7 linked regions of the Homo sapiens genome follow. The protein of the gene in region 7 purifies or fractionates together with the protein of the main gene of each other region. This does not show direct contact. Each region holds a gene or a part of one and is shown on either strand. Other genes may lie near its edges.

Region 1 (4,880 bases), on a different chromosome or scaffold from region 7:
TTAAAAGCTAATGATTTATAATGTTTATACTGATGATTGATAATTGTCCATGATCATCTCTATATCTAATTTGTATTGTAACTACTCTTTATTCTAACTATTTTCTTTATTATACTGCAACAGTTTGTGCCTTCAGTCTCTTGCCTTGGCACCTGGGTAATCCTTTGCCCACAACTCCTGACCTCAGGTGATCCTCCCGACTCGGCCCCGCAAAGTGCTGGGATTATAGGCGTGAGCTACCGCATCTGGCTTTTTTTTTTTTTTTTTTTTTTTGAGACAGAGTCTTGCTCTGTCGCCCAGGCTGGAGTGCAATGGCATGATCTGGGCTCACTGCAACCTCTGCCTCCTGGGTTCAAGCGATTCTCCTGCCTCAGCCTCTCAAGTAGCTGGGACTACAGGCACCTGCCAACATGCCCGGCTTTTTTTTTTTTTTTTTTGAGATGGAGTCTCACTCTGTCACCCAGGCTGGAGTGCAGTGGCGTGATCTCTGCTTGGCGTGATCTCTGCTTGGCGTGATCTCGGCTCACTGCTACCTCCGCCTCCTGGGTTCAAGTGATTCTCCTGCCTCAGCCTCCTGAGTAGCTGGGATTACAGGCTCACGCCACCACGCCCGGCTAATGCCCGGCTAATTTTTGTATTTTTGTAGAGACGAGGTTTCACCATGTTGGCCAGGCTGGTCTTGAACTCCCAACCTCAGGTGATCCTCCCGCCTCGGCCTCCCAAAGTGCTGGGATTACAGGCGTGAGTCACCGCGCCCGGCTTCGTTCTTTCTTGTCTCCATGTCTTTGTATGCTGTTCTCTTTGTCTAGACAGCCTTTTAACCTCTATTCCTGAACTCCACCCACCCTTCCAAACTCAGTAAAGTCTCTATCCTCTTTGAAGCCTTCCCTGACCAGCTACACTTCCTTTCTTTGTATCATTGTCTTTGCTTCATACACAGTTCTAGGATAGCTCATACTTTGCATACTGCAAACTTGATCTCCATTGGCCAGCCAGTGCCATTAGACTCCCAACTACTTCGGGGCAGTCACTGTCCTATACCCTGCTTCAATAAAAGGAAAATCAGCCCCTAGAACAGGACCTAGTACAACTAAGTGCACAATAAATACTTGTTAAATGAATGAATGAATTTCAAGACGCTTGAGACCACTGGTAAGAATTTTGGGTTTCCAAAACCCTCCCCTTCCCAACCCCCATTCGGTAAGAATGCTTTCGCATTAGCATCAGGTCCGAGGTTACTCATTAGAAACTGGGCAAAGCCGGAAGGCGGCCACTTTGCAGCAAAGAAGCCCTAGACCTTGGGAGTCAATCAGGCCAGCCCAGGCCGCACCACGGTCTCCTAGTTGACAGTTCGAGGGGCCTCGCGGGCCGCTTGCTTCGTCAGCTTACAGGGATCCCGCACGCCAGGTGAGCCCACACACTGAGCGGACATTGGGGCAGGCAGGCAGGCGCCGGGGGGCGGGGCCAGCGTCGCCCCGCCCCGTCCTGCCTCGCCCTGTTCGCGCGTCCGCTGTCCGGCCTCCGGTCACGTGACAGCAGCGCAGGTGAGCGCCGCTTCCGGGGTCGGGCGCCTGGATAGCTGCCGGCTCCGGCTTCCACTTGGTCGGTTGCGCGGGAGACTATGGCGTCCTCCTCGGTCCCACCAGCCACGGTATCGGCGGCGACAGCAGGCCCCGGCCCAGGTTTCGGCTTCGCCTCCAAGACCAAGAAGAAGCATTTCGTGCAGCAGAAGGTGAAGGTGTTCCGGGCGGCCGACCCGCTGGTGGGTGTGTTCCTGTGGGGCGTAGCCCACTCGGTGAGAACCAGCCCTAGACCCCCGCAGCCCTGTCCAAACCCCTCGGCTCCGAGGCGTCCCTGTTTCCAGGCTCCAGCCTCCGGAGCCCCACGCAGTGCCACTCCCCTCCCCCGGGTTGTCTTGGTCCCTGCCCACCAACCCCAGGTGTTCCCCCAGCAGGTTTTCTGACTGTGGACTTTTTTCTCCCCAACAGTTCTTTACTGCTCCACTCTAGTTCCACCTTCCCCCCGTGAAATCCAGCTCCCTGTGCTTTGACTCCTTCCTGCCATGTCTAGCTTCAGCCTCAGGCTACGCGGACTGGCCAGGACCGGGCGCAAGCGGGGAGGACATTAGGGGGAGTGGCTTTTTCTCGGGTGGTTGTTGGTGAGAGTGTAGGTGGAGGGTGAGGGGCCGAGGGGAGTAGATGGATGAAAAGGTTCTTTCACTTTGCTTTCCACCTTGCTTCCCAGCCCCGGTCCTTGGCTTTTGAATCTTGGTTTTGTCTCGGGGAAGCTCCAGGTTTCCTGGGCTTTCTAATCCTGCTTGTCCCTTCCTTTCCCTTCCAGAGGTACAGCATTTTAGAGAAGCTACCCCACCCTGAGCTAGAAGTTGCACACTCTCAGGACTTATGTATATATGCCTTTGGTCTTAACTGCATCCTTATCGCTGGCTAGAGCGATCGTGTTTGGTGTAGGTGGTGGCGATTGTTGACCAAAGAGAAGGCTGAGGGGCTCTGTTCCTGAGGTCACTATGGTGGTGAACTTTTGAAGCAGGAAACTGCTCTGGGAGTCAGGAGGAGGCCAAGGAGACCTCCATCCCCTTTCCTGAGGATACCTCAGCTGAAAGAAGCACAGCCATTGCCCATCTTCCGTCAGGTCTGGAGTGGGAGAAATGCAGTTATCTTGAATGTGACACGGAATATTTTCGAAATCAGCGTTCTTGAATATAGTCATGGCTAGGCTGTGGAGATGGAAGTTGTGAGGAAGAATACGCGTTTTGTCACATTTTTAATTTGTGGTAAAGAATTTCTTAACCAAAAATTAAGAATGTTGTTTGTGGCCAGTCGGATCTCTTTTGGATTTGTGGCTCTCTGGGTGGTAAGCTCTTAGTGAGTATTCAGTGGAAGGCACTTGGTATGGGGAAGGCTGATGGAGGTAGGGCTGCCTCTCATATGTACCTTCCAGGTGATTCATCCATTCCCTGTGGGATGCTTAACAGGGAGGGTTTTCCCTTGTTAAGGATTGGGGGAGTTACATGTAAGACCTACCTCAGCTTCACTAGGTATATATACTTTAGCCCCAGCACCCCACCCTCTGCCAACACACATCTACTTCAAGTGTTTGGAATGGAGAAATTCCTTGAACATATGTCTTAGTGATGATTCAGCTTGCTTAGCAGGTGGGGAGGAGGGGGCAGGAGGAGCTATAGCTGAATTTTAGGCTGGGAGTCTCAAGTGGCTTTTTTTTTTTTTTTAATCTGGAGGGATATGTTCTGTCCTCCTTTTCTACTGAGAACGGGAGGAGTTGGTTGCACTGCAGTGTGTGTGATTTAGGTTAGACTGCAGTTCATAGCCTCTGTGGAATGATCTAGTAAGGATAGGCAAGGCATTCATTTATTCAATTAATAGACATGTCAGGATCACTGTGTGCCAAACATTGTGCTAGTTAGACACCTGAAAGATGCAGACGACTAGAATGAGCCCTTGTTCTTGAAGAGCTCACAATCTAGATGGGAGAACTTACATAAACTAGTGATTAGAGTCATGCAGTAACAAAGGCAGGTGAAAGGTACTGTAGCAACACCAAGGAGAAAGCACGGCTCAGGATTTTTAAGTACTAGAGCTCCCTTTCTACCCTGAATTAGCAGACTGCAGATCCTGGGGGCCGAGGAGAGCATGTGATGCTTGTGTCCTTTGGGCTGTGGATTAGTTTGGCTTTAGGGAACAGACGCCTAATGAGCTCATATCCTCTGATTGCCTGCATTCGCTCTGAAATCAGCTGCTCTTCCTTTACCTTACACCTTAGACAGGTGGGGGCCTACTGCAAACAACTGGGTCAGAGTGGTCTAGGAAGACTGGTCCTGTTTGCAAAGAGATGCCTTTTGCAGGATATGGACATTTATCCTTTTTGCTGTGGTTGGCCCCACAGAATCCCATTAACACTCTTGTGCATTTTTAAAATGCCTTTTTTTTTCTTTTTCTAATGGAACATGTAGCTGCCTTGAGCTTGCAGAGTTTTTTTTTTTTTTTTTTTTTTTTTTTTTTTTCTAGAATTTCTCACAGCTTTAAAAATAGTCCTGAGTTGCTTACAGGGTTAGCCTAATATAAAATGACTGTTGTGAGCATGAAGTTCCATGGGGGTGGGCGTGTTGGGGGCTGTGTGTGAGGGTTGCTTACTGTAGTCCTTCTTGGGCAGCAGAAGGGTTAGACACATTCTCTCACTTCTGTCAAGCATATGCATAGCCAGTGTTTTTAAAGGAATGAGGTCTGAGTGGCCCTTGCATGACTGCTGCCCAGACACAGTGTATGGGTAGCTCTCCACACCCTTCTTCATGGCTTCCCTATTCATGGTTTGGCTTATCAGATCAATGAGCTCAGCCAGGTGCCTCCCCCGGTGATGCTGCTGCCAGATGACTTTAAGGCCAGCTCCAAGATCAAGGTCAACAATCACCTTTTCCACAGGTAAGTGATGATCCTTGCCATTCTCATGTCAACCTTCCCAGAAAGGAGTAATAAATAATTTTAAAAGTTTCAGTGAGTTGAAAATTTAACATCCTTCCCAAATGCAGAAATTAGTTTTGTGCAAGGAAACCATGAGAATAATTTCTGGTGTTCCCTATATCCTTATATGAATCAGTGTTATCTCTCCTCTAGCCTGGCAATTCCATAGAGTAAATATGTACAGATACCATTACCTGCTCTTTCTCTCTTTTTCTGCTTGTGACCTTGGAGATGCCATGAGAACCATTAGCTTCTGACAGGGACTCCTTGAAAGAAAAACTTGAATTCTCTACTAAGCCCTCCTAGGAAAAGAAGATGCCATTCAAAACAGTGGTGTCTGTTGCTGACTTTAGAATGCTTCTGACTTGCTTGAGATTTGGGAAATGC
Region 2 (3,087 bases), on a different chromosome or scaffold from region 7:
GCTGGAGTCCAGTGGCGTGATCATAGCTCACTGTAGCCTCCAACCCCTGGGCTCAAGTGATCCTCCCCACTCAGCCTACCCAAGCAGCTGGAACTACAGGTGTGCACTGTGACACCCTAATTACCTTATTTTTGTAGCAGTGAGGTCTTGCTGGGGTCTCAAACTCCTGGTCTCAAGCAATTCTTCCACCTTGGCTTCTAATTTAAGAAAAGGCAGGCCAGGCATGGTGGCTCATGCCTGTAATCCCAGCACTTTGGGAGGCCAAGGCAGGCGGATCACTTGATGCCAGGAGCTCGAGACCAGCCTGGCCAACATGGTGAAACCCTGTCTCTACTAAAATTACAAAATTTAGCCAGGCCTGGTTCCGTGCACCTGTAATCCCAGCTACTGAAGAGGCTGAGTCAGGAGAATTACTTGACTCCAGGAGGCAGAGGTTGCAGTGAGCCAAGATCATGCCACTGCACTCCAGCTTGGGTGACAGAGCTAGACTCTGTCTCAAAAAAAAAAAAAAAAGGCAGAATCAGATGTTTTTCTTTTTTTGCATGACCTCCCAATCTTTACATATTGGCAGCTAAGGAAAATATCTCACAAAGCACCGTGTGGGCTGGCATTTGGCACGGTGCCTTCCAGACCATGGGCCACCAGCCCATGAGCCCTGCAGAGTCTTCTCAACCACCTCAGGGTTGCCAGGGCTCCGGGGAGCCTCTCCCACACCAGCTATGGTGGCTTTGCTCTGTTTTCTGGCATTCTAATAGCTTGAAGCCCTTCTGTTTCACTAAAACAGTGACAACCAGGGTCCATGCCTGAAAAGCGGGGGGTGCTGTCCCCAAAGCAGCTTACACATTCTCCGGGAACACAAGAGACTCAGGCAGTGTTCTTTGGGCTGATGTGTAGTGGCTCACTGAACTTGGTGTCACAGAAACATGGAAATAATAGAAGCGTTTGACCTTGGGCAGTCACTCCATGCCTCCCTGTCTGTGCAAGGGGATGACTGTGCAGCAGCACCCATTCAGGTGTGGTTGGAAGGAGGTGTGCTGCCCTTGGCCTCTGCCCTTCTGCCTGTCCATCTGCTCCAGGCCTCAGTTTCCCCCTCTGTAAAACAAGGGGGCCAGAACTAGGCCATCTCGAAGCTCTAAAAGTCTATGGTTCAGTCTTTTAAAAAGTAGGGTAGGGTATGGTGGTGCACACCTGTATTTCCAGCTGCTTGGGAGGCTGAGGCGGGAGGATCATTTGAGCCCAGGAGTGGGAGGCTGCAGTGAGCCGTACCTCGCCACTGCTCTCCAGCCTGTGCCACACAGTGAATCTCTGTCTCCTAAAAAAAAAAAAAAAAAAAAGGAAATGTGGGGTATACTTAATTCCTTAATTACCTGAATACCTCAGTCCCTGAAAATGTCAGAGTTTATAATCATGGCCTTAGGCAGGTGAGGTATTCAGCACAATACAGCTCTAAGCCTCGGTGTCTCGGGTGTGAAACAGGGACACAATTCCTGCCAAGCTCAAAAGGGGTCACTCGGGGGGCCCTTTAGTGAAGGACAAAAGGTTATGCTCACAAACAAGGGGTGAGGGTTGTTCCTGCCTGGGCCTGTTAGAGAGCTGTTATGCGCAAACCTCCAGACACTAGGGAAAGATTTCATTGTCATTTTTGCCTCTGGGGCCACATTCAAAATTCCCAGCATTTCTGGGCCTGTGACGGGGGTTTCAGTACCAGCTGGGTGAGGCTGGCAGCCCTGCCCCTTCCAGCCTGGATGCTGTGGGCTGTGTGACCTTGTGGGGTGGGCGGGGCAGGGGGTGGGGTGCAGCCCTCAGCACCCCTTCTGCTCTCTTCTCCAGGAGTGGTATGAGGAGCATGCCAGGGAGCAAGAGCAGCAGCGACAACTCAGCAGCAGTGCAGCCCCCGCCGCCCAGCAGCCCCCAGGCAGCCGCCAGCGCTCCCAGACCGTTACCTAGCCCAGCGCCCGAAAGCCGTCTCTTCTATGCAATAACACAATAGTATTACTCTACTGCGATGTACGGAACTGCGGTGTGTGTACACATACTCACGTATATGCACATATTTATATACAGGAAGAAAAAAGACAGACAAGATGGGGCTTGGTTTATAACCACCTTGCCCTGTCTTCCTTAACTCCAGAAGCCAGTTTGGTGAGGGGTGGGGGTGCGGCCACCAGGTCTGAGCTCTTCCTACTGTGGAAGGCTCCAGAAGGCCCTTCACAAGGAGACCCCTCACCTGGATCCAGTCGACTGCGGGGCTTGCCCCTCATGTGGGCTGGCCTCCATCGGCCACGTCCAAAGCTGTCACTGCTACTGCTTCAGGCTCACATCCCCCCGACCTGATGGCGTGCCCGCCCCCTCTCCCTGCGGCCCATGCCACAGGTTTCTGTGTTTTGCTTTAGGGACAGAACCACTTAGGAAGGAAAGAACTCCCGGTCTCCAGGGTGGTATTTCAGTGTCTGTGATAATGTCACGCAACACCTCTTCGGGGACCAGTGCCCAGGATCTAATGGAAGCGGAATTGGGGCAACTGGGCCCATGTGGCCAGAGCTCAGTTAGCCAGTGCCGGGCGGCCACAGATTACACTGACCAATCTCCTCCCTTGGCTCTGCAAGCCTCCCACCCAGCCTTCTCTGGCTTAACCCTTGTTGGCGAAAACTCTTCCACAGTGGCCTCCTTGGGGACCCAGAACCCGGAGGAAGGGGCATGAGGCAGGAAGTGGGGCCGATGTCTGCAACCCAGACCACTTCGTGGAATGGGCTCTTGACCAAATCCCTTTTTTTGCGATTTACCCGTTCAAGCAAAACAACGTTTTGGTTAACTAAGGATTGTGCTAAAGCCGATACCAGGTCCTTCACACGTGTGCACTAGGAACAGGAGCGAACAGCACAGAGAGACGCTCCCTGTGGGACGCAGCAGCCCCGTGGCCCCGGCCCAGTTCCCAGCCACCCTCCCTGGCTCTGCTCACACCAGAGATTTCCATAGCAGGAGCGGTTGGTGCAGAAGTAGGTTCAGATGAACCTCAGTTAACGTCGCCACCCCTCCTCCCACCATGGTACCCTGTAGGAGCCCTGTATGACATCTGAGCGTGGTGGA
Region 3 (3,883 bases), on a different chromosome or scaffold from region 7:
CTGGATAGCCTGGCACCTAAACCCTTCCCTGCACTGTTGAGTCTTGAAGGCAGACCTAGACTCCAGTGATGTGCACTGGACCGTCCAGGTGGCTGTTTCCAGATGCCCTCGCAGCCCGGCACAGGCTGTACCTGCCCCAGCCCTTGACACTGAGCCAGAAGCTGAAGCAGAGAGCAAGGCAGTGACCGTGGGGGGGCTTGGACGCAAGGTGGTACCGTGGCGGGCTCAGCCACAAGGCGGCAACCATGGAGGGTTTGACATAGAACCCCTCCCAGGCTCAGGCGCTGGGCACACAGGAACCAAAAGGACCAGGGTGAAGCCAGCCCCAAGACTGGGCGGCAGGGGAGTGGTCAGACCAGCGCTCTCATCCTACGCTTTCCAAAGCCCGGCAACTGCCCTTCATCCACCCGGCAGAGGCTACAGATTTCCTCTCTGGAGAGAAGGAACCGGGGTTGCTCGCTGAGCTGACAAGAGGTGGCATCCTGGAAAGATGCAGCTGGCCAAAGCCTGCCCTCCATACGGAGTCCCCCCCTCGGCCAATGGCTCCAGCTAAAGGTGAGAGAATTCCTTGCGTGGCAGAATGGGCCACCCAAGACCTACCAACACTGACACTCAGGACCCCAGTCAAACAGAGTGGCCTTAGCAAGGGAGGTGGGTGCCATTATCATCACTTGCGGATGTGGAACTCATGCCCAGAGGGTATGACCAACCTGTAGGTTCCCAGCCAGGAAGCTGAAGGGCTCAGATGCGAACCTGACTCAGTGTGGCACTCGGCAGGTCCCTTCCAGGAGCCTCATCCCTGCCTCCGTAGGATGGAGGTGGGGACAGCCCTCCTGAGGACACATTTCCTGCACTGCCTCCCACAGCTGTGCCCAGACTCCCAGAGCCTCTCTCATGCCAAGAGAGTCTGTGGTGGGAGCCAAGACAGCTGACCCCAGAAGCCCCGGGCACCCCAGACGCTCGGCCCTGGGAGGGTGGCTGTGCCGGACAGACTCCAGACAGAGCTCAGACTCCGGGTCTACACACAGTGACTTTATTACTCTATGGATGCTGGTGAACTGCCCTCCCCAACCAGCTTCACGGGGGCAGGCATCTCTGTCCATCCCATGCCTTTGGGTCACAGGGGGCAGCAAGACCAAGAAGACCACAGCCAGGCCCTGGGTTCAGCTTCAGAGCCATCACCCGCTGCCTCCCCCAACCCCCAATCTCCTGAGGGAGGAGAATTCCTAGGGACAAGACCCAGACCCCTTTCCTTCAGCCTCTGCTTCACCAAGGGGGCCTGGCCTGCGCCCGAGCTCCTCCTGGCCTGCCCCTCAGGGGTCCCAGGTCCTCACCTCTGCTCTTCAGGCAGGAAAAGGGCAGGGAGAGAGGAATGGAGGAGGGAGAGGGAGGCTGGGCCGCAGGAGAGAGAAGAGGGGGGAAGGAGGAGACATTAGGGAGAGGCCCCTTCACACAGAGAGAGAGGCCGAGAAATCAGGGAGAAGGGGGGGGCTGAGGTGAGACCTGAGAAGGAAAGTGAAATTTGGGGGAAAAGGAGTTGGAAAGGAATAGGAAGGCGTTGGGAAGTTCAGACAAGGGAGGCGCAGGTGGAGGAGGACGATGGGAGGGAAGGAGGAGAGGAAGAGGCCAAGTGGCGCTGGGAGAGAGCAGGTACCGCCCGGGGGCAGCACCAAGGGCGGGAGATGGCGCTGGCCGGGAGGCGGCTAACCCAAGGGCCAGGGCGGGAAGGGGCCTCCACCATCCGGGCCCGGAGCTACCGCCCCCTGCGCGCTGGCCGCTGCCCGGCCGTGGATGCGCTGGTGGCGCAGCACGTGCTCGCGGCGCCCGAAGCCCTTGCCACACTCCCAGCAGGCAAAGGGCCGCGCTCCCGAGTGCGTCTTGCGGTGGCGCACCAGGTGCTCGCGCCAGTAGAAGGTCTTGCCACACTCGCAGCACGCGTGGGGCTTCTCACGGGCGGGCAGAGGGCGCAGCGCGGGCCCGGGGCTGCCGGGGCTGCCGGGGTGCGTGTCGCGGTGGCGCCGCAGGTGCTCCTTGCGCCGAAAGGCCTTCCCGCACTCAGGGCAGGCGTGCGGCTTCTCGCCCGAGTGGCTCTGCCGGTGGCGCAGCAGGTGAGCTGGTTTCAGGGACGTTTTGCCGCACTCGGGGCAGGACGTGGTGCCCGGGGCCGCTAGGAAGGCGGGCAGGCCAGGCGCCAGCGGGGGGCTGCTGGGCTCCTGCTTGTAGGGGCGCACAGCCTGGGAGTCCCCAGGCGCCGGCCCCTCAGCCCCAGGGGCGGTGCCTGCTGGGAAAAGAAAGAGAGTCAGCATCTGGGTCGGCACGAGGGCGGGGCAAGGACAGCACAGGCTGGGGTGGAGGCAGGGAGGGAACGCTTAAAGGCAGAAACCATTGGGGTGGGAAGAGGGCTGGGCTGTGGGCTTCTTATTCATACCTGTGTCCCGGTACCTAGTAGTGCCTGGCATACAGTCAATGCCCAATACATAATAGATGATGGCTGGCTGGATGATGGATGGGTAGATGAATGCGTGGGTAGATGAAGAATGCGTGGGTGGATGATGGGTGATGAATGGACCGATGATGGATGGATGAATGTACAGATGATGGATGGGTAGATGAAGAATGCGTGGGTGGATGAGGGGTGGATGAATGTCTAGATGATGGATGGGTGGGTGGATAACTAGATGGACGGATGGGTGATGGATGGGTAGATGATGAATGCATGGGTGGATGATGGGTGGATGAATGTACAGATGATGGATGGGTGGGTGGATGACTAGATGGACGGATGGGTGATGGATGGGTAGATGATGAATGCATGGGTGGATGATGGGTGGATGGATGGACGGATGATGGGTGGATGAATGTACAGATGATGGATGGGTGGGTGCATGGGTGGATGAGTAGATGGATGGATGGGTGGGTCATGGATAGATGGGTGATGATGATGGATGACAGAGGGATGGTGGGATTGGTGTGAGGGGGAACATGTGAAGGATGGATGGATGCCTGGGAGAATGATAGAGGGATGGATGGGTGAATGGGTGGGTATATGATAGAGGAATGGATAGGTGGAGGGTGGATGATGGCTAGATGGGTGCATGGATGGATAGATGGATGGATGAACCTCCAACCCCGAGGCCCACCCATACCCCCAATGCCCGCCCCTTGGGTCCGAACCCCGGGGCTCCTCAAGGGCTGGGGTCCAAGTCTGTCCTTGTCCTGGGTCCTGGTGCCAGGATCGTTCACTGAACCCCCTCCCCGGTGCTGGGGGCTGGCGGGGAGAACCAGAGAGGCCAGCAGCTCACCTAAGGGAATCATCCCACTGTCCTCCTTTCCACCTGTGGCCCCAGGGCCCTGCGTCACATCCTGAGGCACCCTCGTTGCTGACGACCCATCGGGGGAGGCTGCTGGCCCCTGAAATGAGAGCACAGTTTTGAACTCAGAAACCTGAGCAAGGGCCTCTATTTCTCCCTCTCCCAACCACCGTCGACCAGCTGTGCAATCCCATCCCTGCTGGGAGGAAGCCACAGTCATGCTGGGCGACACTGAAGCTGCCCCACAGAGAGGCCCCCAGGTGAGGAACCAAGGCCTCCTGCCAACCCCCTGCCAGGGAGCCATCTTGAAGCCACCAACCTTCAGATGACAGCCTGGCCAACACTGCACTGTGACCTCACAGGAGACCCTGGGCCAGGTCCGCGTGCCCAAGCCACTCACAGACTCCGGACCCACAGAGGCTTTCTGAGCTGACAGATGTTACTGTTTACACCCCTGAGTGTGGGGTGACTTGTCAGGAAGCAAGAAATAACTAATACACCTGTCTCAGATCAGCTTCGTCCTGCCCTTTGGATAAAGTGCAAGCTCCTTAACAAAATGCAGAATATATAAG
Region 4 (5,063 bases), on a different chromosome or scaffold from region 7:
TTAGCCGGGCATGGTGGTGTATGCCTGCAATCCCAGCTACTCGGGAGGCTGAGGTAGGAGAATTGCTTGAACCCGGGAGGCGGAGGTTGCAGTGAGCTGAGATCGCACCACTGCACTCTAGCCTGGGTGACAGAGCAAGACTCTGTCTCAATAAAATTAAAAAAAAAAAAAAGAGGGTTTATAAATATAAACGTTTGTTTTCACATGTAGTTTATTTATTTAAAAAAATAGAGACAGGGGTCTTGCTATGTTGACCAGGCTAGATATGAACTCTTGGGCTCAAGCGATCCTCCTGCCTCAGCCTCCCGAGTAGCTGGGACTACAGGCGCACGCCACTGTGCCCGGCTAGTTTACTTCTTTCAGAACATTTGTTATCAGCAAATTTAAACATTTCAACAAATATTTCAGTTTCCATTTGGAAACAAAATTCTTGTTTGAAAAGCTGACTGGAAACCTGTGAGAATGGGAGTTCCACCCTCCTGTGGGGATGGAGGTTGAAACAGCACCAGAGGCTTCAAGACCAGTCTCCTCTCATTTCGGGGCAGTAAGATACATTTAGCTTACTTAAACAGACTGTGCTGGCAGAGCAAGTCAGTGGCAGAGCTGAAGTTCAGCATTGTCCTGTGGAACTCCTGGATTTTTCTCTTAATTTGCTTCATGGCAGGAGTGTTACATTTAGTCTTGAAGGTCATTTGTTTCAGCATCTTGTCTGTCAGGTAATGTAACCAGAGCACATTACTATAAGGGTGATATTCACCCCAGCGGTTGTTATTCTCCTTCTTCATGAGCCTGTAGATGTCAAACTGGTAGTCACCGTCACCGGTAAACAGGTCCTCATCCATGGAAACGTCACAGAAAACCACAATCCCATCCCGTTCCAAGCGCGACAGGGTGTAGTCAATGATGCTCACTTGCAACCCACAGCTGGGGATAGTGCTGCTCTTCCCATTGAGGGTGTAGTGGAGTTTTTTGAGGCTGGTTTTCTTTAAGAGCACGTTCCCCCAGTGTAAGTCTCGGTGCTCAAAGCGCAGTGATGCCTCTGCCACTGCGAGGGAGGCTGTGAGCTGGTGTAGAATGCTCTTTGCAGTAGCCAAGGAAGACAACTTGGTTCGCATTTGCTCTAAGTCAATCCCTCCAAACTCAAATTCCAGCACAATGAAGAGCTGGTCGTCTTTAAAAAAATCAGGCCGGTCATTTGCAGAGCCTTTGGTTGAATTATAGTGATCCCAGGCTTTGAGGAGCAAGGGAGGGTAAGATCCCTGGACACAGTGCACTGAGTTCAGCCCGATAAAGCCTTCTGTGCGGTTGCACACTTCACCGGATAAGAGGCTCAACTCTTTGGAGATGATGATCTCTGGCAGGATTTCCTCAAAGGTTTTCTGATGGGATCCATTGACTAAATCTGGTCCTTCAATAGCAATGATTTTTATGGCTACGGGTGTGTGATCAGCAATTGTTTGAAACACTTCGCCAAACACCCCTTCCCCAATCTTCTCACAGCGTTGCAGTTTTTCTGTGGGAAGGCAATGGCTAAAGGGGACAGGACCCTTCTGACTGCATTCCCCATAAACCTTTTCAGCATCAGATGCCTTTTTGTTTGAAATACTTAGAGTGTTTAAGGGGCTTAGCAAATACATAGAGGAGGAGTGCCAAGAGGACGGAGCACCACTTGTTCTGTTCATGACAGGCCGGTTTGAACATTCTGATAGGAGGGATCCAGAGAGAGAAGTGGCAGTGGTATAGATGCTGCAGACCTCTGACACATCAGTCACAATTTTCTTCTTGTGGAAACTGAAGGAAGCCCTGGTTTTGGTCCAAAAGCAGACATTCTGTAAAGGAGTCAGGTCCTGGGTGGGGAACGAATCTTTTCCCAGCTTTTGGCCCTTTTTAAAGCGGTGGGAATGGAGGAGAGAGGTTTCCGTTGCCTCCTGATGTTTGCTCTTCCGGCTTGATCTAGTTCTCTCCAGCCTGTCTATTCCCCTTGGCACAATGCGGCCCTTGGGAACACTGGCCTCCTGATGCTCTCTCCGGACGGCCTCTTGAAGCCCTCTCTCTTGACAAGAGTCCTGGCCTGTGGCCCTCCTCTTGCCTGTGCTTGACAGACCTGGACCCTCTGGTCCATTTCCCACCACCAGTTTCCTTTTACAGCAGGACTCTCTCATATTCTTCCCATCTGCCCGAAACTCAGAATCCTCAGGGGTTCCTGAGTTCATAAGGCCAAAGAGAACTGACCTGAGGCTGGCGCGGGTTTGGTGGACCATCCTGGTGTCCTTGGCTCCTCCTGTCGCTTCCTCCTGGGAGCAGGGGAGAGATGCTCGGTCCAGGGAGACTTCTGGGAGGTGGAGGCCGCTCGGGACGGCTGAGGCTGCAACCAGACAGGCGGAGGTGCCGATCGAGATGACACTGTCCCTTGGCGTTGGGGACCCGGGGCAGGGCGAGGCCAGAGAGCTGAACAGGGAGGCACTGATGCCCAGCTCGTCGCCGTCCCTGGGCTGGCCGCACACGCTGAGGTCCGGGCTGAGGCGGCCGGAGTCGCGGCTGGGGAAGGGCGGAAGTCGGAGCGGGCCGCAGGGTGTGCTGCACTTCTGCGGGGGCCGAGCTCGCAGCCCCAGGCGTCTTGGGGTCACGGTTAGGCTTGGGCGAGCTCGCAGCTTCCAGCGCTTTGGGGTCACGGTCAGGCTGGGCCGGTCCTTGGGCACTCGGCCGCCGGGACGCCTCCGCCGCCGCCTCACCGGGCTGCCGGGGAAGTCGGGGTCGTCGGGATCGTCAGGATCGTCGGACTGCGAGGGGTCGCCGATGCTGGCGTCGCTGCTGCCGCTGCTGTTGAAGAAACGCCTCCGGTCCTGCGGCGGGAACCACTGCGCGGCTTCCCGGCCCGGCCGCCGCTGTCTCCTGCCGTCCGCAGCCCCATATGTGCGGAAAAGCCGGCTCCCAGGTCCCGGGAGCGAAGCCGCCATGGCCGGCACCCGCCAAGAGGTTCAAACGCAAACATCGCGAGACTTCCGTGCGACGCGGACGCGCCCGCCTGCCGCGGGGTCCTAGCTCCCGGCCCTGCGCATGCGCACCTCGCCAGGGCCGGGGCCGGGACGGGACGGAAAACTGGCGGCTTGGTTTGTTCAGCGCGTCGCGGTCATGGCTCTCGTTTCAGGCCTCCACGGTGTGCACCTGGAGTCAGGAGCGCGCTTGTGCGTACAGTTCGGTTCAGGTAAGCGCGGCCGTCCCGAGAGGCCAGGGGAGGGCGGAGGGCCTGAAGCGGGTAACGAGAGGCCAGGAGACTGTTTTTCCTGGGTTACCCCTGCCGGCCAGTGCCGGGGGCTGCCAGGCCCTCCCTAGCTTCGTCCCTGGGTCTCAATTGCTCCCGCTGGAGCTTCGCTTGGGCCGAGGTGAGCGCTGAAATTGCTCACACCCTCTATTCTGGGACCTTACGATGCTCTGTGTCCGAAGTGTTAAAAAGATTTCAGACTTTCCGCACGGAAAGGAATTGTGTTCACTAGACCTCGCTTTTCCAGCATGTGGAAGAATGGCATTCAGTGAGCTGTGTCATCGCTTCAGATAAAGAAAATGTCACCGTGGCTGCAGAGATCTCCTGGGATCACTCTGAGGAGGTGTTTGAGACTGAAATGCTCCAGATTTGATTATCCAGTTGCTCACGGGCATCGCCCCTAGAAGAGATAATAGCATCTTTGCATAACATGTCCATGTCCAAAATAGATCTTTTGGTGCAAAAAACCAACCCTCTGTCCCAACCCGTTCCTTAGCTACCCTCAGGAGGGAGATATACTCCAGTTACAGTACAAGGAACTCGAGGGATTACCTGTGACTCCTCTTTCCTACATCCCCACGTCTATTCCAGCAGCAAGCCCTGCCATTTCAGGGCCAAAATATATCCTAAACCCATTCACTTCTCTCCATTTCCACTGCCGTTGTAATTCAAGCTACCCTTTCTTGCCAGGGCTGTTGCAATAACCTTCGGCCTGCCTTTCTTGCCTCTGCTTTTCCCACATTCTTTACAAATAATTCCCACGTAACAGCTATCCGTCTTCTAAGAGCAGACATTAGATTGTGCCATTCCCCTGCTTATTAAAAATAACAAACAAACAAAACTGATGCTTGAGCACACTTAGACTAAAATCCATACTTTTTTCATGGCCAGAGCAAGGCAGTACTTGATCTGGTCTCTGCTTAATTCTTCAACTTCATCTCCTAGTACTCGCCTTTCTCTCCCACTGCCCCTTTTATAATCGGGTTATTCTGTCCTATTCTTCTAGCTCGCCAGTACAGCATTATTCTGGCCACAAGACTTTGTACTTGCTGTTCCTTTGCTTGACACTGCTCTTCCTCTAGGTCCTGACGTAGGTGGTTTCTTCTTAAATTTAGCTCAGGTGTTCTTTTCTTTTTTTTTTTTTTTTTTTTAGATGGAGTCTTGCTCTGTCACCCGGGCTGGAGTGCAGTGGCACGATCTCTACTCACTGCAACCTCCGCCTCCCGGGTTCAAGTGATTCTCCTGCCTCAGCCTCCCGAGTAGCTGGGATTACAGGCGCCGGCGACCACGCCCAGCTAATTTTTGTATTTTTAGTAGAGAGGGGGTTTCACCATGTTGGCCAGGCTGGTCTCGAACTCCTGACCTCAGGTGATCGCCCGCCTCAGCCTCCCAAAGTGCTGGGATTACAGGCGTGAGCCACCGCACCCGACCTAGGTGTTCTTTTCTTTTCTTTTCTTTCTTTCAAGACGGAGTTTCGCTCTTGTTGTGCAATGGCACGATCTCGGCTCACTGCAACCTCCGCCTCCCGGGTTCAAGCGATTCTCCTGCCTCAGCCTCCCAAGTAGCTGGGATTACAGGTATGCGCCACCATACCCGGCTAATTTTGTATTTTTAGTAGAGATGGGGTTTCTCCATGTTGGTGAGGCTGGTCTTGAACTCCTGACCTCAGGTGATCCGCCCTCCTTGGCCTCCCAAAGTGCTGGGATTACAGGCGTGAGCCACCACGCCCGGCTAATTTTGTATTTTTAGTAGAGATGGGGTTTCATCGTGTTGGTCAGGCTGGTCTTGAACTCCTGACCTC
Region 5 (4,276 bases), on a different chromosome or scaffold from region 7:
ATGAGCCACCGCGCCCAGCCAATTTATTATTTTTCTTAATTTATTTTATTTTTTTGAGATGGAGTTTCACTCTTGTTGCCCAGGCTGGAGTGTAATGGCATGATCTCGGCTCACTGCAACCTCCGCCTCCCGGGTTCATGGGATTCTCCTGCCTCTGCCTCCCAAGTAGCTGGGATTACCGGCGTCCACCACCATGCCCAGGTAATTTTTTGTATTTTTAGTAGAGACGGAGTTTCACCATGTTGGCTAGCCTGTCTCGAACTCCTGACTTAAGGGGATCCACCCACCTTGGCCTCCCAAAGTGCTGGGATTACAGGCATGAGCCACCGTGCCTGGCTATTTTTTTTTTATTACTATGCCAATCTCCTGCTACTACAGCTCTGTTCAGATTTTTTGTTTTTTCATGACTCAGTCTTGGTATATTGTGTATGTGTAGACATTTGTCCACGTAATCAGTTATATAATTTACTGAAGTATTCTAAAGGACTTCTGAAATTAAGCCTGAGTTGTACAGTTTTTTGTCCTCTGCTGTATGTATGTATTCTGCTGCTGTTGCTGTGAGTGTAAGGGGTGAGGTGAGGGGAATCATTCTATTGACCTATGACTTAGCCTCATTTAAAGATAATAGGCCGGGCACAGTGGCTTATGCGTGTAGTCCCAGCACTTTCAGAGGCGAAGGTGGGCAGATCGCTTTAGCCCAGGAGTTTGAGAGGAGCCTGGGCAACACAGGGAGAGCCTATCTCTACAAAAAATACAAAAATTAGCTGGGTGTGGTGGTGCCCACCTGTAGTAGGGAACAAGGTGGGATGATCACTTGAGCCTGGGAGGTTAAGACTGCAGGGGCCATGATTGTACCACTGCACTCTAGTCTGGACAACAGAGTGAGATCCTATCTCAAAAAATATTATATCAATCTTTATTTATTTATTTATTTGGAGACAAAGTGTCACTCTGTCACCCAGGCTGGAGTGCAGTAACACAATCCTAGCTCACTGCAACCTTGAATTCCTGGGCTCAAGCAATCCTCCTGCCTTAACTTCCCAAGTAGCTAGGACCACAGACACCTGCTAACATACCCTGCTAATGTTTTTAAAAAATTTTTCTAGAGGTGGCTATAACTTTTAATTTTTTTGTTTTTTGAGGTGGAGTCTTGCTCTGTTGCCCAGGCCCACCATGCCAGGCTAATTTTTCTATTTTTAATAGAGACCAGTTTTCACTATGTAGGCCAGGCTGGTCTTTAACTCCTGACCTCAAGTGGTCCACCCTACTACTCTACATGCCTGCTCTGTTATTAACCAAGTTTTCATATGAATACTGGCCCATTGAAGACTCTTCTTTTTCCTTGATCTATTTGTTTATCTCTCTGCTAATAGTATGCTGTCCTGAATGTGATGGTTTGGAAATCTTTGGTGTTAGGTAAGCCATCCACCTGCTATTCAGAAGGCTTTGACAATTATTAGATGTTAATTCCTGCACACCAGGTGGTGGGAGGTTTGGAAAAGTAGCTTTTGTTTACCTAAAATGTCTGTTTTGGGGATTTTTTTTTTTTTTTGAGACGGCGTCTCGCTCTGTTGCCCAGGCTGGAGTGCAGTGGCATGATCTCAGCTGACTGTAATCTCCGCTTCCTGGGTTCAAGTGATTCTTCTGTCTCAGCCTCCCAAATAGCTGGGACTACAGGCATGCGCCATCACGCCTGGCTAATTTTTTGTATTTTTAGTAGAGATGGGGTTTCACCATGTTGGCCAGGCTGGTCTCAAACTCCTGTCCTCAAGTGATCCACCTGCCTCGGCCTCCCAAAGTGCTGGGATTACAGGTGTGAGTCACCACACCCAGCTGTATTGGGTATTTATGAAATTTTGTAAGGATATCATTTGGAAGAAGGGACATCTTATTGAGTTTTTTCTAGGAACACATGTTATCTTTCCACTTACTCCATACTGCTTTGACATTACCTGACAGAAATTTTAAAATTCTTCCATTAGGACAATTAAATATTGATCATGAATCTTATTTACTACTTGATTAAATTTGGTCTAGAGTAAACTGCTTGCAAGCTTCAGGATATTCTCTCTTGGTATAACCACATGGGATGAGCTCAGTTCCCCAGGGGACAAGTTGTGACAACACGTGTGACATATTGTCTCCCAGGAAAGCTCATTAAAGACTCTGTGCCCAGAGTGTTTTTCTGGGGCTAGTGCCCTAGGCACCACTTCTAGTTTGGAACAAAAGAGTAGGCTTTCAGAAGGAAAACAGTTCAGTCAGTACCATCCTGTTTGTCAATACCATAAACCGTTTAGCCACAGTAAGCCACTTTGTCACTTAAGTTGATGGGATCCCTCTCGTAGTCTAAGTTGACCCCGATAGTAGCAAAGGTCGAACTTGGTAAACAGGCCTTTCTAAGGATACCCAGACTCAGGACTGCTGAAATGAGCGCTGTCTGCACACCAGGTGGTGGGAGTTTGTTGTGACAGGTACTAGAGATTCACTCTGCAAAGAGCATTTGGGGCAACGCAGCAGCACAACTGACTCCCTGGACCCACCACAGAGAGGGTGGTCCTCCTCTGTGGCTGGCTCTCTGAGTAGGTCAGTTCTCACACTGGAACTGCTGCGAGGGAGGAAGTGCGTGTAGATAGGAGGAGGCCGATGACTCAATCATGGAGTGAGTGTTTGGAGAGCCCGGCGTCATGGGATCACTCATGTATTGAGTAGAGATCCCCAGTGCTGAGTCTCACCCCTCCTCCTCCACACCTGTGGGATGTTTCAGGACTCAGTGGCCTTTGAGGATGTGGCTGTGAACTTCACCCAGGAGGAGTGGGCTTTGCTGAGTCCTTCCCAGAAGAATCTCTACAGAGATGTGACGCTGGAAACCTTCAGGAACCTGGCCTCGGTCGGTAAGAAGGACATTTCCTTCCTTAGTCAATTAGAAGACAAGTGTGTTTTGGTCACCAGTGTGGTTGCACAGTTTGGAATGTGGAAAGAGAATACGTTGGTGAATAAATGGGGCATCGTGGGCCAGGTACAGTGGCTTACCCTTGTAATCCTAGTGCTTTGGGAAGCCACGGTGGGAAGATTGCTTGCGTCCAGGAGTTTGAGACCAGCCTGGGCAACATGATGAGACCCTGTCTCTTTAAAAAAAAAAAAAAAAAGTGGGGGGTGGGCAATTGTGGCAGCTCATGCCTATAATCCCAGCACTTTGGGATAATGTTGAGATAATGTTGAGAAATGCAGAAGTATTGCTGGGTGTGATGGCTCCTGCCTGTAATCCCAGCACTTTGGGAGGCTGAGGCAGGTGGATCACCTGAGGTCAAGAGTTTGAGACCAGCCTGGTCAACATGGCGAAACCTCATCTCTACTAAAAATACAAAATTAGCTGGGTGTGGTAGTGCATACCTGTAATCCCAGCTACTCGGGAGGCTGAGGCAGGAGAATCACTAGAACTCAGGAGGCGGAGGCTGCAGTGAGCAGAGATTGCATCACTGCACTCCAGCCTGGGTGGCAGAGTGAGACTTTGTCTCCAAAAAAAAAAAAAAATCAGGCATTGTGGCAGTGTTTAATGAACTTAGAACCTAGTGATTTTTCTGTAATTTTAAATAATTCATAATAATTTCTCTGGGTCTACATTTTAGGAATCCAATGGAAAGACCAGGACATTGAGAATCTGTACCAAAACCTGGGGATTAAGCTAAGGTAATCTCCACTCACAAGAGGAAGCAGTGTCTCTTGAGGGAATCTTAGTAGGTCAGGAAAATTTTTAAAAAAATACAAGACAAATAAGTACAATGTTAGGTTTTTAACTGATTATTAGAAGATTGCTACCAAAAATCTATCCTTCAATGTAATGTAGATGTTGAGTGTCTGGACAGGGTACTAAGAATCTGTGACATGGATGTCACTGTTTGGATAACTGCTATGGGGAGCTGGGTAGCAGAATCATCAATACACTTCCTTTCTAATAATTCTGACCCAGGAGAAAACCTCCACTTTTCCTGATTTTGGTAGCAGCATAAGTCTTAAGACATGTCAATTAGTAGAAAAGCATTAATAAACCAAGCATTGATAATGCGTTTGTCATTTTTCATAGAAGTCTGGTGGAGAGACTCTGTGGACGTAAAGAAGGGAATGAACACAGAGAAACTTTCAGCCAGATTCCTGATTGTCACCTGAACAAGAAAAGTCAAACTGGAGTGAAACCATGCAAATGCAGCGTGTGTGGGAAAGTCTTCCTCCGTCATTCATTCCTGGACAGGCACATGAGAGCTCATGCTGGACACAAACG
Region 6 (3,083 bases), on a different chromosome or scaffold from region 7:
GATCTAAAGGGAAATGAAATGAGTGGAATGAGTCTCTGGGATTTCATGTGAGGGTTTGAGTTCTGCTTCTGGCACGTAGAGGTTGGGTGAGTGTGGAATCCTGTTTGAGTCTCTTTTTTCTCATCAGAAAAATGACGTTAATAAAAGGACCCACCTCCTGTTGTTATTGTCAGATTTTTGTTGTGAAATATTACCTGTAAAATGCTTAGAGTGATGATTGGCTCAAGTATGGTTTACATAGAGCACAATTTTTAGAAATAAAAATAGCTGAGGCTGGGCATGGTGGCTCATGCCTGTAATCCCAGCACTTTGGGAGGCTGAGGCAGGTGGATTGCTTGAGGCCAGCAGTTCAAGGCCAACTTGGACAATGTAGCAAAATTCTGTCTCTATTTTAAAAAATAAAAAAAAAATAGCTGAAAAGTAGTGCAAGGAACAAATACATTAAGGAGTTAAAGCGATCAGTTCTGGATAGGAAAATGATGAAGGATTGTTCTAGTGAGAAGAAGTCATTTGAAAAGAGGCTTAAAGAATATAAAATAAGGAGAGAACATGCCAAACAGAATGAAAATACACAAATGCTCTGGGGTAAGAATGAAGTTCCACTCTACTGATGACAAGAAGTCCAGGTTGCTTGGAGCAGATGGTTTACACAGGACACAAAACTACATTCACTTCTTGTGGTTCTCAGTCCCTTCACCTATTTGTCTGGTATTACCCTTGTTAAATCTAAACTTTAGTATTACGGCAAAGCATCTCTGTCCTGGATTCCTAATTCCAGGTTCTTAACAATGGTAGAGGATGTCACAAGCACTGTACCATCAGAAAGTTAGCGTCCTTCAGTGCTGCCTGAAATCCTTTTTTGAGTGTCTTATCTTAGATTATCTCTTCCCACTTCCCCAGAGGCCTGTAATTTTCCAAGTTGATGCCAGTTTTATCAACATTCTCCACCTCATCCTGAGCTATCATTTACCCCCACCAAACTGGCTTTTCTCCTGCTTCACCAAGATATTTCAGGCAATTAGAAATGAACTTCCCTGATTTACTGGCCACACAACCATGGAGTCATTGATAGCTAGGAATTTTCTGTTTCTTTACAAGTGTCTTCTCAGGGACTTGGCTCTGTCAGTCTTCCCTTTACTTCCTGTAACTATAATATTGGAATTTGTTTTCTGAGGAAAATGAGCCAGTTAAATGGCAGGAATTATAAACTGGATCATTTTCTTCAGAAAACAACTATCATTTATGTTCCACTCACCCTTCTCCCCCACAATCCTATTGGCTTTGCATCTCCCTTCCTGAATTCTAAGTCTAACCACTTCTTATCATATCTCTTACTTCCACTTTAACCTAAGTCATTTGTTTTTACCCAAATTACTGTAATGACACCTTGATTTGACTGCTTGATTCTACTCTTACACTTTCACCTAAAATATACAGAAAGTTTAAATAGATCATTTGCAAAAGAAGTATCAAGTTATATTATTTCCCTGCTTATAAAAGGTTCAGTTTCAACCACCGGTACCCTTGTTGTTGATTTTCTTGTCACCTCTTTCCTTCAAAGCGAAACTTTGAAACTTTGAAAGGGTATTCTAGATTTGCCAACTCCACTTCTCATTTCCCATTTGCTCTTCAACCTGGCTTCTGCCTTTAACATGCCAGTAAAAGTTTTATTAGGATCACTAATACAACAAATGAAAAATACCAAGGCACTTCTGTAGAACTGGCCTCATGTTTGTCTTCTCTAGCTAATGACATTCTGTGGTATTATGGAGGGCATTTGACCCAAGTGCTGCCAAGCCAAAGACTAGTCAGGATGTATGGAAGTTCAGGACTTGATTTTTAATTGTCAAGAAAACAAATCCTTAGTGTGGGAAAATACTCCATTCACTTTTATTGTTGAAACAATTAAAAAATTAGCTGAAAGTGCCCTCGCCTCCTAAAGATATCCTGATGTTGATCTTAATATTAAGTAATGAAAAATCTTCATAGTAAGTATACCCAATCACATTGATTAGCTCCCTTTCCGCAACTGGCTAAAGGTAACGAACTCAGAAAAATGATGAAAATACTATTTTAAGAAGAAACACTACGCTCTCGAAGGACTATAATTGGCACTAATCTCCTACATTACTTTATTTAGGAACAGTCCATCTAAGACACGGATACTTTGAACCTAAATTTATTTGTATTTTAATGGGACTAATAGTAGTTAGACTTGCTTTATTTGTGTGTGTGTGTGTGTACATATACACACACACGTAAAGGACATGCTACCCTTCATATTTCCAACATTCAATAATTATTAATCATCATGAATCTCATATAATTAAGTTGGGGAAAGGTTGATTTCCATTTAAACTGCTTATGTTATCAGAAAACTATCTTTTTCTTTTTTCTTTTTTTTTTTTTTTGAGATAGAGTCTCACTCTGTCACCCAGGCTGGAGTGCAGTGGCACAATCTTGGCTCGCTGCAATGTCCACCTCCCGGGTTCAAGCGATTCTCCTGCCTCAGCCTCTGGAGTAGCTGGAATTACAGGTGCATGCCATCATGCCTAGCTAATTTTTGTAATTTTGGTAGAGACAGCGTTTCACCATGTTGGCCAAGCTGGCCTTGAACCCCTAACCTCAAGTTACCACCTGCCTCAGCCTCCCAAAGTTCTGGGATTGCAGGCGTGAGCCACCGTGCCTGGCCCAGAAAGTTATCTTTTTCAAATTAATCTTATAAAAAAAAATTTATATAATAAAAGCCTGATACTTTGAAATTATAAATGTTTTTCTTTTGTATTCTGAGGGAATAAAAATATTGAAAATAAGCTTTATAATCAAGCCATTAAGATATTACCTTTAAAATATATCAATATATTTTATTGGTTTATTAAAAATTATGTCAACATATAATGCTCTCAGTAATTTAGCCAAGGTCAGACTACCTCAGTAACCTTAGAATTTCCTGATTTTGTTCCTTTTTGAAAGTAGATGAGGCCGGGCACGGTGGCTCACGCCTGTAATCCCAGCACTTTGGGAGGCCGAGGCTGGCGGATCACGAGGTCAGGAGATCGAGACCATCCTGGCTAACACGGTGA
Region 7 (4,276 bases):
AACATCAGTTTACCTATATAACAAACCTGCACATGTACCCCCAAACCTAAAATAAAAGTTTTTAAAAAGTTGGTATTACCTTTGCCCCTATTTGCCCAAGTTAGAGACCAGTTTCCCTTTGAATTACTTTCCTAAACTTTCAATCTGTCAATAGTCCAAGGGGCAATTATGGTTTGTGTAAAACCTTGAAATGGACTTCTCAGCTCTCTCTTCTTTAAGAAATTCTAAAAATAGATATATTTTTATAATAGACATATTTTTAAAATAGGCATATTAGTGTTTGGTTTGAATCAACCAGACAGCAAAGGATATAAAGTCCTACTCTACCAAAGGTTACCGTGATTTTAAATAAACTGACTCAAAACAAGAAAGACAAACATGACCCAAAAGTTGCTGAAAAATTCTAGAATTTTAACGAGATGCTTATTTCCTTTTTAATGCTTAAGAGACTCGAAACACCCAAACCAACAGGAGATGGTGGAGAATAATTTAACAAGATTAGTTTTAACCAGAAGACTCAACACAGCCACCTCGCTGTGAGGTGAATAAACCAGGACCAATTCTTGCTGCTTCAGCTTCTGTGTACCTCCAGTCCTCCTAACGGCACTTCCCTGCTGAACTTACCGCAGGTCTGCACTGAGTCACGGCGGCACTGGCAGCAGGCTCTGTGGGCATATTCGTGGAGCTGAGGTCTGTCAAAACACGACAGCTCAGAGCCGTTGTACTGAATGTCCTGTGACCGCAGAGACCCTAAATGAGGGGTGAGAACTCTGTCAGGGAACACAGTCTCCTCTCTAGTGGACCTGTGCCATTCTAGCTTTTGTATTTTTAAAGAACAAATCAGCTATCCTTCCAATGTTTGATGACTTCTTCTTACATGGAAGCACAAACATGAAATAATTTGTTAAGAAAGTTCAAAATGTAGGGTACTAATGTTGCCATTACTGAGAATGATTTTTATTTTTGCCTAGTGGCGCAGGGACATCACAGCCTTGTAAGTCTCCTTACAAAGCTGTGCAACCTCAGTGAATTCTACAGATGACCCTTAAGCAACACGGGTTTGAACTGCGCAGGTCACTTATACACAGATTTTCTTCAGCCTCTGCCACGCTGAGACACCAAGGCCAACCCTCCTCCTCCTCCTCCTCAGCCCACTCAACATGAAGATGATGAGGATGAAGGCCTTTACAATGATCCGCTTCCACTTAATGAAGAGTAAATCTATTTTGTCTCCCTTATGATTCTCTTAGTAACATTTTCTTTTCTCTAGCTTACTTTAATGTAAGAATACAGGGCATAATACATATAATAGGCCGGTGCAGTGGCTCACATCTGTCATCTCAGCACTTTGGGAGGCCGAGGCAGGCGGATCACGAGGTCAGGAGTTCGAGACCAGCCTGGCCAACATGGTGAAACCCCGTTTCTACTAAAAATACAAAAATTATCCAGGCGTGGTGGCGGGCGCCTGTAGTCCCAGCTACTCCGGAGGCTGAGGCAGGAGAATCACTTGAATCCGGGAGGCAGAGGTTGCCATGAGCTGAAGTCACGCCACTGCCCTCCAGCCTGGGTGACAGAGCCAGACTCTGTCTCCAAAAAAACAAAAAAACAAAGAAACATATAATAAACAAGATGTATTAACCAACTGTTTATCAGTAAGGCTTCCCGTCAACAATAGGCTATTAGTAGTTAAGTTTTTGGGGAGTCAACACTGACGTGTGGATTCTTAACTGCTCTCCTAGCCCTCTGCTGTTCAGGGATCACCTGTGTTTCTTGTGCCCTGCGTTCTTTCACAACTCACTGGTGCTTGTCTCAGCCAAGTCTCTTGTGGAACACTTGCACGACAATAGTAATAAATGCCCTTCCCCTAAATGCTAAGAAATGTAATGAGCTCAAAACTTACAGCTGGGTTTCTTCTCCATAAACTGTCTCTTACAATAGATGACACAGAGGATGAGCAGGGCCAGCAGGACGGTGGCCAGAGCGCTGCAGATAACGGCAGCCAGCGCCGTGTCCCGTGGGCTGGAGGCCGTGGACGCGATCTTCACGAGGTTGACCTTGCTGGCACCTGAAACCACAGGAATGGGGTCAGCATGCTCTGAACAACTGCAGATGCAGTGTTTATGGCGAAGCTGGCAGGCACCCTTACCAGTGGCCTTCCCATGCTGTGAGAAAACTGGCATGAGATATTTAAAGATGGCTCAAGCACCCCCTCCACCCAGAAGATGTCTTTAATGGGACACCTTTACCCGGCACCCCACAATGTGCAGGGTGTCCCTCTCCTCTGTTCCCAGAGCGCTACGGACACACAATCCTCAACACATTGTGTTACTAGAATCTGCCTTCAGCTCCACCAGAGCAGAATTCTTTGTGAGCTGGGGGTCTGTCATCTTTACCTCTGGTTGCCCAGTACTTGGCATGTGGCAGGGAACTAATGTTTTGTACTTAATTGGAATTACACCATATTTTTAAGCAGACTGAATGCATGTATGCTTTTTGGGGCAACTTTAGGGGAAAACAAGGAGTTGGATCATCCAGAACCTTACAGTAGACCCCAGTTTTTGAGACAGTAAACATCTCTGAATGCCTTAGCTGTTAAACTACTGGAAAACATCTAAGTTTTGGAGAAAAGACTAATACTGTTATTACACTATGGAAAGGCCGGCATAGTCATGTGCTAAGAAAGTCAAGAAATAGATCTTATTTTAGAGGGCAGTACTGCTTTGTGGTTCAGGGCAGATTCTGAACCCCATGGCCTGGGTCAACCTCTACCTGTGTGACCTTGAGACACTGACTGGAATTTCAAGTTGCCATCTGTTCAAATGGAGGTAATAATAGTGACTGGCTCATGTGTTATGTAAAGTGTGTGGGACTGGCTGTGCTGTAGAATCATTAGCCACTGTAATGATGATGATAGTAATTACCATTTTAAAACTATCCTGAGGGTACCAGGATAAACAAACTCATTTAAATCAGAGATCTATATCTAGTGCAGTTAAACAGCATATCCTACTTAACTAACCCCAAAATAATGAGAGAAATGGATTTAAAAGGGGCATGAATCTACACAGAGGGGCAGTTACATTTTCTCTTTCCCAAGCAGATGCCCTGAGTGAGCTGAGGGGCCCTCACTCTGCTTCCCCGGCAGGTGCTGCTCACCACAGGAGCCTCCCCTCGACTGAAGATTACTCCAGGTAGAGGTATAATGTGTGCTTCACATGTCATTTCAGGTTGTCTAGGAACCACATTTAAAACGTAAAAGAGAGGCAAGGTGCGGTGGCTCATGCCTGTAATCCCAGCACTTTGGGAGGCTGAATTGAGAGGATCCCTTGAGCCTATGAAGCTGCAGTGAGCTGTGATCGCACCACTGCGCTCCAGCCTGGACGACAGAGCGAGACTCTGTCTCAAGAAAAAAAGAAGAAGAAGAAGAAGAAGAAACAGGTAAAATTAACTTTAGTCTATTTTACTTAGCCAATATATCTTAAATATTGCATTTCAATATGTATTCAATATAAAAATTATTTATGACATATTTTGCGTTCTCTATTTTGTATTAAAATTTTAAAATCCGGTGTGGTTTTAAAGACACAGCTCATCTGAATTCAGACTAGCCACACTTCAAATGCTCAGTAGCCACATGTGGCTAATGGCTATCATAATGGACACTGCAACTCTAGAGATTGAAGGTCTGTGTCTATATTTGTACAAGATGGCACCTAAACACAAGCCAATTTGTCATCTGGTGCCTTTCTCCTTCTCCCTGGCTACACACCCCTCACTCCCAATAAGATCGTATGACACCTGAGACTACAGCCCCAGAGAGAAACACTTGGGTTAATATTACTGAATCATAAAAACAGGATAGCAGGAACTATCATCTTGGAGCATGAGTCTTGGTATTTCCAGTCTCAGTGATTCTAGGCCACACATATAAAAGTCTCTTATTGCCATCTGGGAAGGCACACACACCATATGTTTTGGGCTTAGATGAATAAGGCTCATAATCCAATCATACATTTTAAAGGACATTTATTTGTAAACATGTTTAATATTCACAAAATATATTTCATCACTTCTAACTCTATAGAACACTATAATAAGCAAACGGCACACACTAAATGTTCATTATACAGCAAGCTAAAAAAAATTACAACCCTGACCTGATAGAGATTAAATCTAATCTGAAACAGCCTCTATCACTGGACAGAGTCACAAAAGGCCATATGAGCACAAGCACAGCTGTGCAAACACTGAAAATGCATAACTGGAGAGGAACTTG

What was found.
Region 1: the proteins of TNFRSF19 (region 7) and PIP4K2C purify together in Homo sapiens (affinity purification with mass spectrometry; 2 studies listed by BioGRID and IntAct, with this or other methods). This does not show direct contact.
Region 2: the proteins of TNFRSF19 (region 7) and TPCN1 purify together in Homo sapiens (affinity purification with mass spectrometry; 2 studies listed by BioGRID and IntAct, with this or other methods). This does not show direct contact.
Region 3: the proteins of TNFRSF19 (region 7) and ZNF444 purify together in Homo sapiens (affinity purification with mass spectrometry; 2 studies listed by BioGRID and IntAct, with this or other methods). This does not show direct contact.
Region 4: the proteins of TNFRSF19 (region 7) and HASPIN purify together in Homo sapiens (affinity purification with mass spectrometry; 2 studies listed by BioGRID and IntAct, with this or other methods). This does not show direct contact.
Region 5: the proteins of TNFRSF19 (region 7) and ZNF101 purify together in Homo sapiens (affinity purification with mass spectrometry; 2 studies listed by BioGRID and IntAct, with this or other methods). This does not show direct contact.
Region 6: the proteins of TNFRSF19 (region 7) and SMR3B purify together in Homo sapiens (affinity purification with mass spectrometry; 2 studies listed by BioGRID and IntAct, with this or other methods). This does not show direct contact.

Annotation. Positions count from the first base shown.
Region 1 is NC_000012.12:57,589,669-57,594,548, forward strand, and holds the start of PIP4K2C (phosphatidylinositol 5-phosphate 4-kinase type-2 gamma), read left to right. Parts: upstream 1-1,523; 5' UTR 1,524-1,621; coding exon 1,622-1,795; intron 1,796-2,551; exon of another isoform or gene 2,552-2,649; intron 2,650-4,356; coding exon 4,357-4,454; intron 4,455-4,880. UniProt on the Homo sapiens protein: Phosphatidylinositol 5-phosphate 4-kinase with low enzymatic activity. May be a GTP sensor, has higher GTP-dependent kinase activity than ATP-dependent kinase activity. PIP4Ks negatively regulate insulin signaling through a catalytic-independent mechanism.
Region 2 is NC_000012.12:113,294,130-113,297,216, forward strand, and holds part of TPCN1 (two pore channel protein 1), read left to right. Parts: intron 1-1,830; coding exon 1,831-1,947; 3' UTR 1,948-3,087. UniProt on the Homo sapiens protein: Intracellular channel initially characterized as a non-selective Ca(2+)-permeable channel activated by NAADP (nicotinic acid adenine dinucleotide phosphate), it is also a voltage-gated highly-selective Na(+) channel activated directly by PI(3,5)P2 (phosphatidylinositol 3,5-bisphosphate) that senses pH changes and confers electrical excitability to organelles.
Region 3 is NC_000019.10:56,158,022-56,161,904, reverse strand, and holds the end of ZNF444 (zinc finger protein 444), read right to left. Parts: intron 3,412-3,883; coding exon 3,303-3,411; intron 2,282-3,302; coding exon 1,704-2,281; 3' UTR 1,012-1,703; downstream 1-1,011. UniProt on the Homo sapiens protein: Transcriptional regulator. Binds to the 5'-flanking critical region of the SCARF1 promoter.
Region 4 is NC_000017.11:3,721,830-3,726,892, reverse strand, and holds HASPIN (serine/threonine-protein kinase haspin), read right to left. Parts: upstream 2,991-5,063; 5' UTR 2,958-2,990; coding exon 561-2,957; 3' UTR 194-560; downstream 1-193. Other genes in the region: ITGAE (integrin alpha-E isoform 1 precursor), read left to right, coding at 3,149-3,205, 3,510-3,605. UniProt on the Homo sapiens protein: Serine/threonine-protein kinase that phosphorylates histone H3 at 'Thr-3' (H3T3ph) during mitosis.
Region 5 is NC_000019.10:19,675,100-19,679,375, forward strand, and holds part of ZNF101 (zinc finger protein 101), read left to right. Parts: intron 1-83; exon of another isoform or gene 84-99; coding exon of another isoform or gene 100-201; intron 202-304; exon of another isoform or gene 305-1,416; intron 1,417-2,764; coding exon 2,765-2,891; intron 2,892-3,626; coding exon 3,627-3,687; intron 3,688-4,081; coding exon 4,082-4,276. UniProt on the Homo sapiens protein: May be involved in transcriptional regulation.
Region 6 is NC_000004.12:70,385,601-70,388,683, reverse strand, and holds part of SMR3B (submaxillary gland androgen-regulated protein 3B precursor), read right to left. Parts: intron 1-3,083.
Region 7 is NC_000013.11:23,656,839-23,661,114, reverse strand, and holds part of TNFRSF19 (tumor necrosis factor receptor superfamily member 19 isoform 2 precursor), read right to left. Parts: intron 2,066-4,276; coding exon 1,901-2,065; intron 751-1,900; coding exon 625-750; intron 1-624. UniProt on the Homo sapiens protein: Can mediate activation of JNK and NF-kappa-B. May promote caspase-independent cell death.